Homo sapiens: one gene and its partners. The protein of the gene in region 1 purifies or fractionates together with the protein of each later gene. This does not show direct contact. Each region holds a gene or a part of one and is shown in the gene's direction. Other genes may lie near its edges.

The links. The genes of interacting proteins can lie anywhere in the genome.
Region 2: the proteins of LRCH3 (region 1) and CALD1 purify together in Homo sapiens (affinity purification with mass spectrometry; one large-scale study listed by BioGRID and IntAct). This does not show direct contact.
Region 3: the proteins of LRCH3 (region 1) and CRLF3 purify together in Homo sapiens (affinity purification with mass spectrometry; one large-scale study listed by BioGRID and IntAct). This does not show direct contact.
Region 4: the proteins of LRCH3 (region 1) and RSU1 purify together in Homo sapiens (affinity purification with mass spectrometry; one large-scale study listed by BioGRID and IntAct). This does not show direct contact.

What each region holds. Positions count from the first base shown.
Region 1 is NC_000003.12:197,797,709-197,801,371, forward strand, and holds part of LRCH3 (DISP complex protein LRCH3), read left to right. Parts: intron 1-3,663. UniProt on the Homo sapiens protein: As part of the DISP complex, may regulate the association of septins with actin and thereby regulate the actin cytoskeleton.
Region 2 is NC_000007.14:134,786,010-134,789,672, forward strand, and holds part of CALD1 (caldesmon), read left to right. Parts: intron 1-3,663. UniProt on the Homo sapiens protein: Actin- and myosin-binding protein implicated in the regulation of actomyosin interactions in smooth muscle and nonmuscle cells (could act as a bridge between myosin and actin filaments).
Region 3 is NC_000017.11:30,786,654-30,790,316, reverse strand, and holds part of CRLF3 (cytokine receptor-like factor 3), read left to right. Parts: intron 1-2,655; exon of another isoform or gene 2,656-2,878; intron 2,879-3,663. UniProt on the Homo sapiens protein: May play a role in the negative regulation of cell cycle progression.
Region 4 is NC_000010.11:16,691,886-16,695,548, reverse strand, and holds part of RSU1 (ras suppressor protein 1), read left to right. Parts: intron 1-393; coding exon 394-526; intron 527-3,663. UniProt on the Homo sapiens protein: Potentially plays a role in the Ras signal transduction pathway. Capable of suppressing v-Ras transformation in vitro.

The sequences.
Region 1 (3,663 bases):
AAAATAGCTGGGTGCCATTGGCAGGCGCCTATAATCCCAGCTACTCAGGAGACAGGCAGGGGAATCGCTTGTGCCGGGGAGGTGGAGGTTGCAGTGAGCTGAGATGGCGCCTCTGCACCCCAGCACTGGCAACAGAGCGAGACTCCATCTCAAAAAAAAAAAAAACAAAAAAAACAAAAAAAAAAACAAAACCAGAAAAATCCTAAAACCAGAAGGAACCATAGTGACCTTCTAAGTTATTTCACAAATGAGAAGCAATCTGAAGCTGGGTGCAGTGGCTCACGCCTGTAACCCTAGCACTTTAACACTTTAGGAGGCTGAGGCGAGTGGATCACTTGAGCCCAGGAGATGGAGACCAGCCTGGGCAACATCGCAAACCTCGTCTCTTAAAAAAATACAAAAATTAGACAGTTGTGGTGGAATGCATCTGTAGTCCCAGCTGCTTGGGAAGCTGAGGTGGGAGAATCGCTTGAGTCTGGGAGATTGAGGGTGCAGTGAGCGGAGGTCGCACCACTGCTCTCCAGTATGGGCAACAGAGTGAGACCCTGTCTCAAAAAAAATAAATAAATAAATAAATGAGAGAGAAGCAATCTCAGATTAAATGATATTCTTAACGTTGTATAGTGAGGTGATACTGTTTTACACAAGGCAAATAAGAGTCATAGCTGAAGCTTGAAGAAAACTCTTGAATGAAATACAGAAAATGAGAAAGCAAAGACTCACCATTGGTGTAAAGCCTACAGGTGAGAGCAGGATGCTGTGGGCAGGTGGACTACAATCACACACAGAAAAAGGAAACATTGACATGTGGCGGGTGAGCCAAAGTAATGCAGTGTCATTGGAGCTATGAGAATTAAAATTTTCAAGAAATGAATACTTTCTAGGTAAGAAGAATGAGGACTGCTAAAATGCCATTTAATTTTCCAAGGAGGCAGTCTGTAACTCACAAAATTATGGTTTCATTAGTCTTGGAAATACGGACTAGAGTACCAGGTCTTAATTTGAGATTGTGTTTTTCTTGGATCCTTGTTTATGTCTATTTTGTAACAGTCACAGTATATGCACTATGAATTTTTCTAGAACTGTACTGTGTAGTATGGTAGCAACTAGCCGTAAGTGGTTATTAAAATAGAAATTTAAAACTTGGTTCTTCATTTGCACTAGCCACATTTCAAGTGCTCAGTAGCCACATATGTCATTTTGGACAGCACCTTGGACCAACCTCCTCTCTGTCATACTGGACAGCACAGATAATAGAACTCTCTCATCACTGCAGGAAGTTAGGTTAGACAGTACGTTAGACTCCCCTGAGATTGGTCTTAGAAGGGAAGGGGAGGTAGTAGGATGGTTTCTTTAGGGGAGGTGAGAAGATGAACCATAGAGGACCACTGAACCAGTTTTGAGAGTACGGGAGTGACAGCAGTGCTGGGGCTGAGGAGTTCCCAGGTTCCAGTTCCTTTTACAGTGGCTATATTTGGGAGCTGGATGGTTAACGTTACTTCATGTTAGAACATCAAGTATGACTTTAAGTGGTGTGGTTATATACATGTTTCTTGTTCTTTCCAGTTCCTCTGTAAAATATCCCAGGTGCGCTTGGGAAAAATGTATGGTCAATGTGGTAATTCACACAAAGGAATATTATTTTGAATTCCTGAAGCAGCCAGCAATATCAAATGCAGTGTGACTAATTTTAGAATCAAACTAGTAGTAAAAATGTAAAGCATTTCCTTATTCACTTTTAACTTTCTTCTTTGCTCTTCACAATTTCTAAATTTTTATTGTTTGAAGGAAGTCTTAAACCTTGGATTTAAACTGGTTTAACTGATTTCTTATTTAAAAACTGGGTAATAGATTTTCCCATTAAAAACAGGTTTTTGGCTAGGCGCGGTGGCTCATGCCTGTAATCCCAGCACTTTGTGAGGTCAAGATGGGTGGATCACCTGAGATCAGGAGTTTGAGACCAACCTGACCAACATGGCGAAACCCCGTCTCTACTAAAAATACAAAAAATTAGCTGGCTGTGGTGGCACGCGCCTGTAATCCCAGCTTCAGCTACTCGGGAGGCTGAGGCAGGGGAATTGCTTATCCCGGGAGGCAGAAGTTGCAGTGAGCCGAGATCACGTCACTGCACTCCAGCCTGGGCAGCAGAGTGAGACTCGCTCTCAAAACAAAAACAAAAAACAAAAGAACAGGCCGGGTGCAGTGGCTCATGCCTGTAATCCCAGCACTTTGGGAGGCCGAGGCAGGTGGATCATGAGGTCAGGAGTTCAAGACGAGCCTGGCCATGATGGTGAAACCCTGTCTCTACTAAAACTACAAAAAAAAAAAAAATTAGCCAGGCGTGCTGGCAGGTGTTTGTAATCCCAGCTACTCGGGAGGCTGAGGCAGGAGAATTGCTTGAACCCCGGTGGTGGAGGTTGCAATGAGCCAAGATCACGCTGATCGCACCACTATACTCCACTCCAGCCTAGGCGACAGAGTGAGACTGTCTCAAAAAAAAAAACCCCACAGTTTTTTAAAAATGATTTTCATATCATAGAGAGTGGGAAGGTAAGCCACAGTCTTCTTAAGATTTCCAATAAATGCAACAGATTAGATCCAGAATATTTAAGAATGTCTATACACAAGTAAGAAAAAGACAACCCAGGAGAAAACTGAGAAAACACTTGAACTAGTACTTTACTAAAGAGGAATTCCAAGTGGCCAATAAATGTTTGAAAAGGTGCTGAACCTCATCAGTAATCAAGAGATTGAAAAATAAAACCACAGTGGGTACTACTTTACAAGTTGATGATTCCAAGTACTGGAAAGAACGTGGAGCAGTGGAGACACTCATACGATGCTGTGGGAGCTTGTGGGAGTGTGAATTGGTGCCTCAACTTTGAAAATGCTCTGGAACGATCCAGGAAGGTTTAAAATACACATATTCTGTGACTCAGAAATTCCACTCTTGAGATAAATCTCTCAGAGAAAGTTGTGTGTATGTATACCAGGATATATAGTATGATAAGACTGTCCATAGCATTATTCATATTTGACAAAATAGAAACAACTTAAGTGATGATCACCAGTAGAATGGATAAATCAATTGTGTGAAAATGAGCTGGCCAAGTGCGGTGGCTCACACCTATAATCCCAGCACTTTGGGAGTTTAAGGTGGGTGGATCACAAGGTCAGGAGTTCGAGACCAGCCTGACCAACATGGTGAAACCCCGTCTCTACTAAAAATACAAAAAATTAGCCGGGTGTGGTGGCGGGCGCCTGTAATTTTAGCTACTCAGGAGGCTGAGGCAGGAGAATCGCTTGAACTTGGGAGGCAGAGGTTGCAGTGAGCTGAGATCACACCACAGCACTCCAGCCTGGGCAACAGAGTGAGACTCCATCTCAAAAAAAAAAACAAGAAAATGGATGAGCTATAACTATATGCAGTTGCAGGAATGAACCTTAGAAACATAATGTCGAGAAAGTGAAGTGTGAAGCATAATATATACGGTGCAAATATATTTAGTAAAGTTCAAAAACAAAAAATATAAGTGCTAAAAGTACAAAGAAAAGGAAATAATTGCCATAAAAATCAGGATAATGGTTACCTCTAGGGGAGAAGGAAAAAGCTGTGATTAGGAAAGGGAGCTTTGGGTTGGGAGTCAGGGATATATTTCTGAA
Region 2 (3,663 bases), on another chromosome or scaffold:
GGATGAATCTAAGCTCAGAGGGGAGGGGAAAATGTGGTCACTGATAGTGATATCTGTTGTGGAAGAGAAGGGCCATATCTACTCAAGTACCATGTTTTAGTCTTCATTAATGTGGTCTGTAGGTTTTTAACCTCTGGGTGGTGGATCCCTGGGAGGCCACAAAGTCATTGCAAGAGGTAAACAAATCTGTATATGCAGCAAGTGCTTTTGGCAAGCTACTCTGAGTAAATAATATATCTTACATCATATGTGCTACTATTTTTCTAATTCTATACATACATTATAATGATAAAATGCTAATTTATTTAAAAGAGTTATTGAATTCATAGTAGCTTTTAAGTTTGTGTTTTTGTGTTTTATTAATGAGTGGACTTAAAACATATAATTATATTATGTGTGGGAAGGTTGGGACAGGAAATTTGGGATCTTAAGTAGAAATTCTTTTTAAAATATGAACCAGTGATCTATTTTTTATTCTCCAAAGCCTAGCCACACCAAGTAAAATTATGTATGTATTTGTAGGTTTCTTCGATTAATGTCTGCCCTGTCTTATTGGTCTGTCAGATATATAAGGACAGGAACCTCTATTTTTTTTTCATTCGTATATACCCAGTGCGTGGCACACGGCAGAATCTCAATAAATATTTGTTGAATGAAATAACAAACCAAGTGACTTGACCAAAGTCATCCAGTTAATTAGTGGTAAGATAGTTCCAAAACACACAGCTCCTAAGTTCCAAGCAGTTAACCTTTTCAATATACCACATTACTTCCCCTGATAGTAAGAGAGCATGTTTTAACAGTTAGCAAATTTAGGTTATACAATGCTGCCCAATCTGCCTATATACCCATGCATCTTAACCAGTATCTTAATCAGAATCAACTGTAGAGCTTTTTGAAAATACACATCCCTGAGACCTATCCTCTAGAGATTCTGATTCGGTAGGTCTAGAAGGGGGTCCAGGCATCTGTAGTTTGTAAAAGTTCCCTGGTGACTCTGATAAAACATCCTGGCTCAGAAACAGTTCTGTGCACCTATCGTTAAAATAATTGATAGTAGATGTATGTAGTTACTTATTCCTCAGAAGCCTATTTCTTTAGTTTTGAATAATTTCTTTCTAAAAATTATAGTTGCATATGCCAAATAATCCGTTTGGCCAGAAGAGCAAAACCTTTAGTTTTGCTTTTTTTTCAGTTTAAGCACAAAGTTATCAACCCTGTAAGGTCAAATTTTTCTGATGAGATTTCCAGTGTTTGCTTTTGTAAAGGACTGGAAATGTGGCAAGAATAAAATTTCTCATGGTATTTCCCACTTCCTTTTCCAGCCATCATTACTAAGGGAAATTTAGGCTTAGGGGGAGGGGTGAATCTAGGAGAAAAAAAATTTTAAGTATTTCTGTTCTTAGGAGGTTTTGAGCAGATATTTCGCTTCCTAGGAAAAGCTGAAGATGTTTTTCTCTGTTTCCACTTTGTGGTGAGGATGCACAAATCCTGAAGAGGGGAGAAGCTTCCTCCACCTCCACCCTCACCCCTACATCTTCTCTAGGGCAGGAGTCATCACAGCCCCTGGTTTAGATGCTTCCCTGGGTGGCCCTTTTGAAAGTATGTGGACCCTAAGAGACAGGAGACTTTGAGTGCATGGATGGGGGATAATTTGCTTTTGCAGAAGGACAGAAAATTTATCTCTAGGTTCTTCCTTTATTCGGCAGTTAGGAATTACATCCTCTGTATTGCACAGAAGAATCTACCATATTCAGAGCACTGAGTACATGGATTATATTCACTAAAGATTGGAGAGCCAAAAGTTTCTCTGCAAGAGTGACCTGATCTAGTAAGAATGTCAAAATTGTTACTATATTTGTACCCATGCTCTTCGGTTTAGAGGGCAGGTGCTTCCGTGTGTACATAGAAGCAGAGCTTGTTGGAGAAGAGGAGCTAAAAAGGAATTAGATTAGAATCCACCTCTGTACAATGGCACCATCTGGACTCAGTCTCCTTCATCTCTAACACTGTCCCCACTTTCTCTGCACCCCAAACTCATACTGGCTCCCAAAAGCTCATTGTTAAACTTTCGAGAATTTTGAGAGCCAGTTGTAAAACACAGCCATTATAAAAACTAAATCATATAAACTTACAATTAAACACATTATATGAAGAGCCAAGATAATAAATACTCAAAACTCTTCCTAATTATTTTGCTATGTTTCACTATTATCTATTCTCTTGAGGTTAGTTACATCTATTGTGGCTATATGGTGGAAATACTGTATAAAATGCTGTGCAACTGAGCTTCTCCTCCCAATTCTTCATTCAGTGATGTCATATTCAGAACTTGAAATTGACCATGATGGAAGTAATTACACCACAGAAATCAGCCCATGCTACAAAGCAGACTCCCCTCCCCTCACCCAAGAACTTGTTGCTAAACATTGACTAGCACATCACTGACCCTAAGGGATGCGGTGGTAAAATTAGCCTCTGCATTGGAGAGCCAAGCGGAATACCTCTGTGGTTCAGTTACATGCATATTCATAATGTATGCTTATGATTGCATATTTGTTTGTTTGCTTGCTTATTTATTTCTCATGCTCCTAGAACATAAGCTCTATGAAAGTAGAGACTTTGTTTGGCTTTTTCAGTGCTGTGATTTGAACCTAAAAATGTGCTGTGTCCTGCACATAGTATTAATAAATGAGTTAAATGAGTGAAAGAAATAAATGTCAGGCTGGTAGTGGTAGCTCGTGCCTGTAGTCCCAGCACTTTGGGTGGCCAAGGCAGGCAGATTGCTTAAGGGCAGGAGTTTGAGACTAGCCTGAGCAAAATGGTGAAACACTGCCTCTACAAAAAATACAAAAATTAGCCGGCCATGGTGGTGTGCATCTGTAGTCCCAGCTACTTGGGAGGCTGAGGTGGGAGGATCACATGAGCTTGGGAGGTCGAAGCTGCAGTGAGCTGAGATTGTACCACTGCACTCCACCCTGGGTGACACAGTGAGACCCTGTCTCAGAAAAAAACAAAAAGTAAAAAAAAAAAAAAAAAAAAGTCTACAATTTCTACTTTAAAAATACCTGAAGCCAGTGTTCATGTTGGAGCTCATTGATTCCTCATGAATTGTATCATTGTTCAGTGTTTAGAACAGTGCCTGGCACATGCTAAGTAGCATGTAGATTTTTATTAGGTAAAAATAAAATAAGTTATCTTCATAACAGCTAATTTTACAGATGAAGAAACTGAGTTACGATTAGATTAAGTAATATAGCTAAGGTCCCACAGCTAGTAAGTAGCTGGGTCAGGATCTAAACCCGGGATAATCTGGAGGCACTGCCCACCTTCTTTACCACTGTGCTATGCTGCCTCTTGCTAGTTACTCCACGTCACTGAGACTCCTCTTTTGTATGTGGCTCTAGAAAGAATTGAGATCTATTTGAGAACAAACTTTGGAGTCAGGAGAACTTGAGTTTGAATCTCAAATTTACCACTTTTTTCACTTACAAAATGGGGATGATTTCTCCTCCACTTTGTAGTTGTCACAACTACTAGAAGTAATATCTTGAAACTGCTTTGCACGTACATGATAGACACTCAATTACAAATGGTCAGCTATTGGCTGTGATTTCCTGTGGAGGCTACCTGTTAGCGTGGGGCTTAGCCACACACTGTCCC
Region 3 (3,663 bases), on another chromosome or scaffold:
AGTTTGCCTGATTTTCACCATACTCACCTTAGTGTAACAAGCTCTCCTCTAAGTTTTAAGTCTTGAGATGGGATTTTATTGTGAATGCTTGACCCAAGTTCCTTTTGTTCTCAGGCCCTTATTATTTAAGGCATGGAGAATATCTGAATATTTTATCTAAGCCAGTGTTGCTGTATTCCTCTCCAGCTAAGTAATTTGAATTGTCAGCGGTTGTCAGATTATACTAGTTTGTTTTGTCTAATTTTTGACACCTCACCCCTTAATGAAGAATGACTCAGTAAACAGAAAAATACCAACAAAGAGAGAGAGAGGAAAAAAAAAAACAACTAATACCTAAAATCTATTTAACTATTCCCCAGGTAATCATGAGTTTTCTGTACTTACATACCCCTTCTCTGCTTATGTCCCTTGTTTACAGAAGCACTTCGGTTAGTGACTCTCCTGAGAACAAGGTATTTCTGTGCAATGACAGAGCTTCCTAACTTGATAAATTCAGGCCAGATATCTCAGACTGCAATAATGATGATAATAATAATAATTGCAGTTAATATTTAAACAGTATTTACTATGTGCCATGTACTGTCTTAAGTATTTTACTTGTATTAACTCATTTGATTTTCATGGTAACCCAGTGAGATAGATGGGTTATTTATTTTAGGGATGAGGAAACTGAGGCATAGAGAAGTTATTTACCCAGTGTCACACAGCTAGTAAATGCCAAAACTAGGGTTTAAATCCAGGCAGTTCGACTCCAGACTGGTCTGTATTGCTTCTTTTTCATGGGAGAGTTAACATGATTCTAGTTAGTGTTGAAGTCTACAGTTTCTCTATTACTGTGTCCTTAGCTCTTTAACTTTTACCTCTTATGACCTTTCACCACTTGATCTGATGCTCTCCTGCTTTTTAAATTCTTCCTCCTTGGACACATGGTAATGTCTGATAGATTGCATAGTTAGGTTTATTTCTTAGACCATTCAGTAAATATTTATTAAGACATTGGAAATTATACAAATTGATTTAAATTCACCTCTGCTGACCGTGATGTGAAAGACACATTAGGTCTCAATAAACTGTTGAGTCTCTCTTGCATCTCCTAAAGATGCATCACCAGGCCCCACTTGGCAGGGTGATTAACTGAAATTCAGTTAAACTCAATATAATGGTAGCCAGCCTTTTGCATTTTTGTCATTTTTTTCTTTGTGGAATGAAATGTTTTCTCCCCTTGTTTAAAGGAATTTCAGGCATCAGCAGTGAAGCCAGAGATGTGAATGCAAGGGGGACTCCATGCATAAGGGCATAAGGGAGGAGCAAGTGCGCCTACTTGAATCAAGAGAAACAATATTTAGTTTTTTGAGGGTACTTAAGGGCCTAGTAGTTAGAAGGGAGACTATACTCTTGAAGGCACTACGTTAGCCGGGCACGGTGGCTCACGCCTGTAATCCCAGCACTTTGGGAGGCTGAGGTGGGCAGATCACGAGGTCAGGAGTTCGAGACCAGCCTGGCCAATATGGTGAAACCCCATCTCTACTATAAATACAAAAATTAGCCGGGCGTGGTGGTGTGTGCCTGTAATCCCAGCTACTCAGGAGGCTGAGGCAGGAGAATCGCTTGAACCCAGGAGGCGGAGGTTGCAGTGAGCCGAGATCACGCCACTGTACTCTAGCCGGGGCAACAGAGTGAGATGCTGTCTCAAAAAAAAAAAAAAAAAAAAAAAAAAGAAGGCACTACTTTGTTATTTATCCCAGTCAGTCCCTGCTGAAGCTTCTGGAAGGCTTGGAGCTGCTGAAGCCAGAGAAACCTGTGATACTGGCTGGATTTTAACAGTCTCTAGACCCACTCTCATTAGATGCCCAGGTCTGCTAGCAACCCCCTCCTTCCAGGTCTCCCTCACTTCCTATGTGAACATTCCTGCTCTTTCCTTGCTTCTAAGATTTTCTGATTTTTTTTAAGGTTTCCTTCTTTCTTTTCTTTTCTTTTCTTTTTTTTTTTTTGAGACAAAGTCTCATTCTGTTGCCCAGGCTGGAATGCAATGGCACAATCGGCTCACTGCAACCTCCACCTCTCAGGTTCAAGCGACCCTCTCACCTCAGCCTCCTGAGTAGCTGGGACTACAGGCGCCTGCTACCACGCCCGGCTAATTTATTGTATTTTTAGTAGAGACGGGGTTTCACCGTGTTAGCCAGGATGGTCTCAATCTCCTGACTTTGTGATCCGCCCACCTCGGCCTCCCAAAGTGCTGGGATTACAGGCGTGAGCCACTGCACCCGGCCTATTTTCTTTCTCATTCCCCTCCCCAGCTCTCCCCCTCTTTTTGTTTAAGACAAGGTCTCGCTCTGTCGCCCAGGTTGAAGTGCAGTGGCATGATCTCAGCTCACTGCAATCGCCATCTCACAGGTTCAAGTGACCCTCTCACCTCAGCCTCCTGAGTAGCTAGGATTACAGGAGCCACTACCACACCCAGCTAATTTTTGTATTTTTTGTAGATACGGGGTTTCACCATGTTGCCTAGGGTGGTCTTGGAACTCCTGACCTCAGGTGATCCACCCTCCTTGGCCTCCCAAAGTGCTGGGATTACAGGTGTGAGCCACTATGCCCGGCCCCTCCTCCCCATACTTCTTTAGACTGCTCAGATATGAAATAACTTCAGAAACCTACCCAAATATTATGATCCTGCATGTTTGCTATTTCACAATCAATGACATTTTGAGGCCACATTGACTATAAATAATCACATCTGTCTTTGGAAAAGCCACATTTTGTTTCACACTAATTTTTTTTTTTGTCCTTGCAAAGTTGGCTTTCTGGATGGAGAGAATGATGTGTCTGGCAATAGGGATCTGTACATTTCCTATTTCAAGAGCACACAAAGTACTGACATCTGAAATGAAAACACAAAAGGAAAAGCTTAAACTTGCCACATAGGAAGTTCTTCATGCTTGAATAGTGTCTTCATAACCATAATGGGATTTTTTAGGATTATAATAGTTCTTTTTAAATGCTTTATTTACTTAACAAATAGTAATCAAATCATTGCAAATTCTTATATGGAAGATTTAGGCGCTGGCAGCAATAGTTACATAAATTATAATGTCAACTATGACAAACCTTCTATGTGTCTAGAGCTAGAATATAAAATAGAAGTGTGCCATCATGGCTACAAATGGTTAAGAATATAGATTCTAGGCCGGGCACGGTGGCTCACTCCGTAATCCCAGCACTTTGGGAGGCCAAGGAGGGTGGATCACCTGAGGTCAGGAGTTCCAAGACCAGCCTGAGCAACATGGTGAAACCGTGTCTCTACTACAAATACAAAATTAGGCCAGGTGTGGTGGCTCACGCCTCTAATCCCAGCACTTTGGGAAGCCGAGGCAGGCGGATCACCTGAGGTCAGGAGTTCGAGACCAGCCTGACCAACATGGTGAAACCCCGTCTCTACTAAAAATACAAAACTAGCCGGGCATGGTGGTGCATCCCTGTAATCCCAGCTACTCAGGAGGCTGAGGCAGGAGAATCGCTTGAACCAGGGAGGCAGAGGTTGCAGTGAGCTGAGATCGCGCCATTGCACTCCAGCCTGGGCAACAAGGATGAAACTCCATTTCAAAAAAATAGATAGATAGATTGATTGATTCTAGAGTCAGAATGCCTGTGTTTGAGTCCTGGTTC
Region 4 (3,663 bases), on another chromosome or scaffold:
TTGATCAGATTGGGCCCAGATCAGCCAGGACAAGGCATGATGCATACTGACATGGTCAAGATAGAATTTTAAATGGTTTTCATATTATCACTTCTCTTAATTTTGAACAAGTCATTTTTGTCTCTGCAGCAAATACCTCCTTCCCTCTGCTCTGCTTTCCTTTTCCATCTGTCTTCTTTCTTCCTTCCTTTGTTCTTAATTTCTGGGGCCAAGGTACTGTCATGACTGTGTACCTGTGATGACTTGGGTTAAGAAATTTAAAAGACATCAAATGATCCAAGAGGCACTTAGGGTTTGATTTAGGGTACTTAGGCTGTGATTACTGAGAAGGACTTCTTAGACCTGATCTGTATTGGATGAAGTGACCTTCACTTTTTTTTTCCCCCCCCCCAGGAAACTTGGATTTAACTGGCCAGAAGCAGGTATTCAAAGCAGAGAACAATCCCTGGGTGACCCCCATTGCAGACCAGTTCCAGCTTGGCGTGTCCCATGTTTTTGAGTATATCCGTTCTGAGACATACAAATAGTAAGTAGACTCTGATTTTCTGAAATAGTAGACTGTGATTTTATAGTATTTATAATTACGCCTTTAAAAATATTATGTGACAGTATCCTATTGATGGCAGTTAGCACTTAGCATTTTAAGATGTTTTATTAAAAACTGCATGTCGGCCAGGTGTGGTGTGGCTCACAGCTGTAATCCTAGCATTTGGGGAAGTCGAGACTAGAGGATTGCTTGAGCCCAGGAGTTTGAGACCAGCCTGGGCAACATAGCAAGACCCCGTCTCTACAAAAGAAAAAGAAAAAGAAATTATCCAGGCATGGTAGTGCATGCTTGTCATTGTAGCTATTCTGGAGGCTGAGTTGGGAGGATCACTTGAGCCCAGGACATTGAGGCTGCACAGAGTCGTGGTCATGCCCTGCACTCGAGCCTGGATGAGAGAGCACGACCCTTTCTCAAAAGAAAAAAACAAGAAAAAACAGCATGTGGTCATTGTCTCTATTTGTAAATTGTTTTTTATTGATATTTTCAAGGGGATTTTTACTGATTTTCTTTAGAGAATTTTTGAGGTATTAAATTAGTTGAATATTCATGGCACTAAGGAAATTCACCATTCAGATCAGAACATATTTTTTTTCTTCTGTGAATGCAAAGAATTACAAGTGTTCTGAACAAAATTGTTAAGCAGTTTATTTATAAAATCAGTAGAGAGTACTAGCAATGCGTCATTCTATTATAGAGAAGCTTGTACTGTAGTGAGATGATAATCTCTTAGAGAAAAGGGGAAGGCAGGAGAGGAAGCGGAATCTGCCAGCTTAAAGTCACAGCATCCAAATACCTCAAGTCCTCACTCCAGGTGAAAGGAGTCTATGCAAAACTGTCCCAAAAACCTCACGATTCCTGCTTCTTTCTTCCTCCATGTGTCAAGGTTGAAAGGAATTCTGCCACTTCCACGTGCTTCTGTTGTTATATGTACCGTCATTATTTTCCTACCTTATCCCAGCCCCCAGCTGCAAAACAAACTGTCATTTATCAAATACTTGCCTGACCCCAAATGCTGAGATCTAGTATAATTTTAAGCATATACAAAAAAGACAAAAACATCCCTACTCAAATGTAATCTGTTTTTGTGTCTGACATCAACTTTTAAAATTTATTTTTTAATTAATTAATTAATTTTTTTTAAGAGACAGGGTCTCACTGTATTGCTGGGCTGGAGTGCAGTGGCACAATCACGGCTCACTGCAGCCTCAAGCGCCTGGGCTGAGGCAATCCTTCCATTTCAGCCTTCCAAGTAGCTGGGACTACAGGAGCACACCACCATGCCCAGCTAATTTTTTTAATTTTTTGCAGAGACGGGGTCTCCCTTTGTTGCCCAGGCTGGTCTCAAACTCCTGGTGTCAAGCAATCCTGCTTTCATCTTCCAAAGTGCTGGGATTACAGTCATGAGCCACCATGCCCAGCCTGGCACCAACTTTTGAGAATCTAACATCCCAACTATTGGAAGAAAGCTAGAAGATTGCTAAAGGTCACATTTAGTTAAGAGTTTCTTTTCTTTTTTTTTTTTTTGGTATCAGAAATATGTCCCACACTCAAGAAAACCCTGTGAATCTGTGCCAGGCCAGTGGGTCGGGATTGATTGGCAGGGCAGAGCCTCTGCCCAGAAGTGGCTGGCTGCATTTCTGCAGTCTTGCAGCCTGAGCGCCATGCTCCTGGTCAAACATTTAGCACTTGCTGTGGCCATGTTTCCACCAGACAGAAACAGAGAAGACAAGCTGTAAAGAATAATGGCCAGCCGGAGCATGGTGGCTCACGCCTGCAACCCCAACACTTTGGGAAGGCAAGGCGGGTGGATCACTTGAGGTCAGGAGTTTGAGATCAGCCTGGCCAACATGGTGAAACTAAAAACACAAAAATTAGCTGGGCATGGTGGAGGGGCACCTGTAATCCTAGCTATTCAGGAGGCTGAGGCACAAGAATCGCTTGAGCCAGGGAGGCAGAGGTTGCAGTGAGCTGAGATCGTGCCACTGCACTCCAGCCTGGGCGACAGAGCAATATTCCATCCCAAAAAAAAGAAAAAAGAACAATGGCCTTAAAATGAAATACACTAAAATTGCCAAAATGATACCGTATCCTCCTATATAAAAGCAATGTAAAGCGTGGTTTAGATTACTTTAGACAATACTATGACACTTACAGTATAAGTCTAAAGACTTACCTTAAGGATAAAATGAGATAGGTATAGGATGTGTATTAATTGTTTCATAAGCCATATAGATATGTACAGTTATTACAGATTCAATTTTTTTTAAAAAAATACGAATGTAGCTCACCCTTAGAAATTAGTTAATTATGAAAATGTGTGAAAATATAGTCACAAATTAGCAGATGATTGTTTATCTTCTTCTTTGTAAATTGTTAATCATTGCTATCGTGAGTTTTAGATGGGGCTCTAATTTTTTCTTAGTAAACAGGAAGCTATTTAGAGCTTGGTTTGTATGGTATCTTGAAAAAAGTCATTCTGTATATGATAGTATACAGAAAAATGCATGAACAAACTCCTAGCCATCTGGAATTAGAGGAAATTCTCTGTTTATTATTCTGGTTAACAATTTTTAGTTTTCCATAGATCACTTTATAATTTATAGAGGATGAGAATACATTGCATATGAAAGTGCTTTTAATTTTAAAAGATTAAATTGTGAGTTTCTGGATTTTGTATTACCTCAAAGTAATTATTAGGCAATTAATCACCATTCTGCACTGTTACAGACTATTTTAACTGATTTGAATGTGGTTAGGATTCTGGATAAATGAGAGGTATCTATAACATAATTGGTATATCTGTTTTTATGTCTGTTATTAGCATCCTATTTTGGGGGGTTGGCGTAGTCTAAGCAATGTGTCTGCTAACTTTTTCTGTTTCATTTCCTCATGGAGCCTTGGATTACCTTTTATGCAGTTAAGTCAACATTAAAAAGTTTCAGTAGGCTGGGTGCGGTGGCTCACGCCTATGATCCCAGCACTTTGGGGTGAATTGTGGGGTGATTCACCATGAGGAGGGTGAATCACTTGAGGCCAGGAGTTCAAGACCAGCCTTTCCAACATGGTGAAACCCCATTTCTACTCAAAATACAAAAATTAGCCGAGTGTGGTGGTGG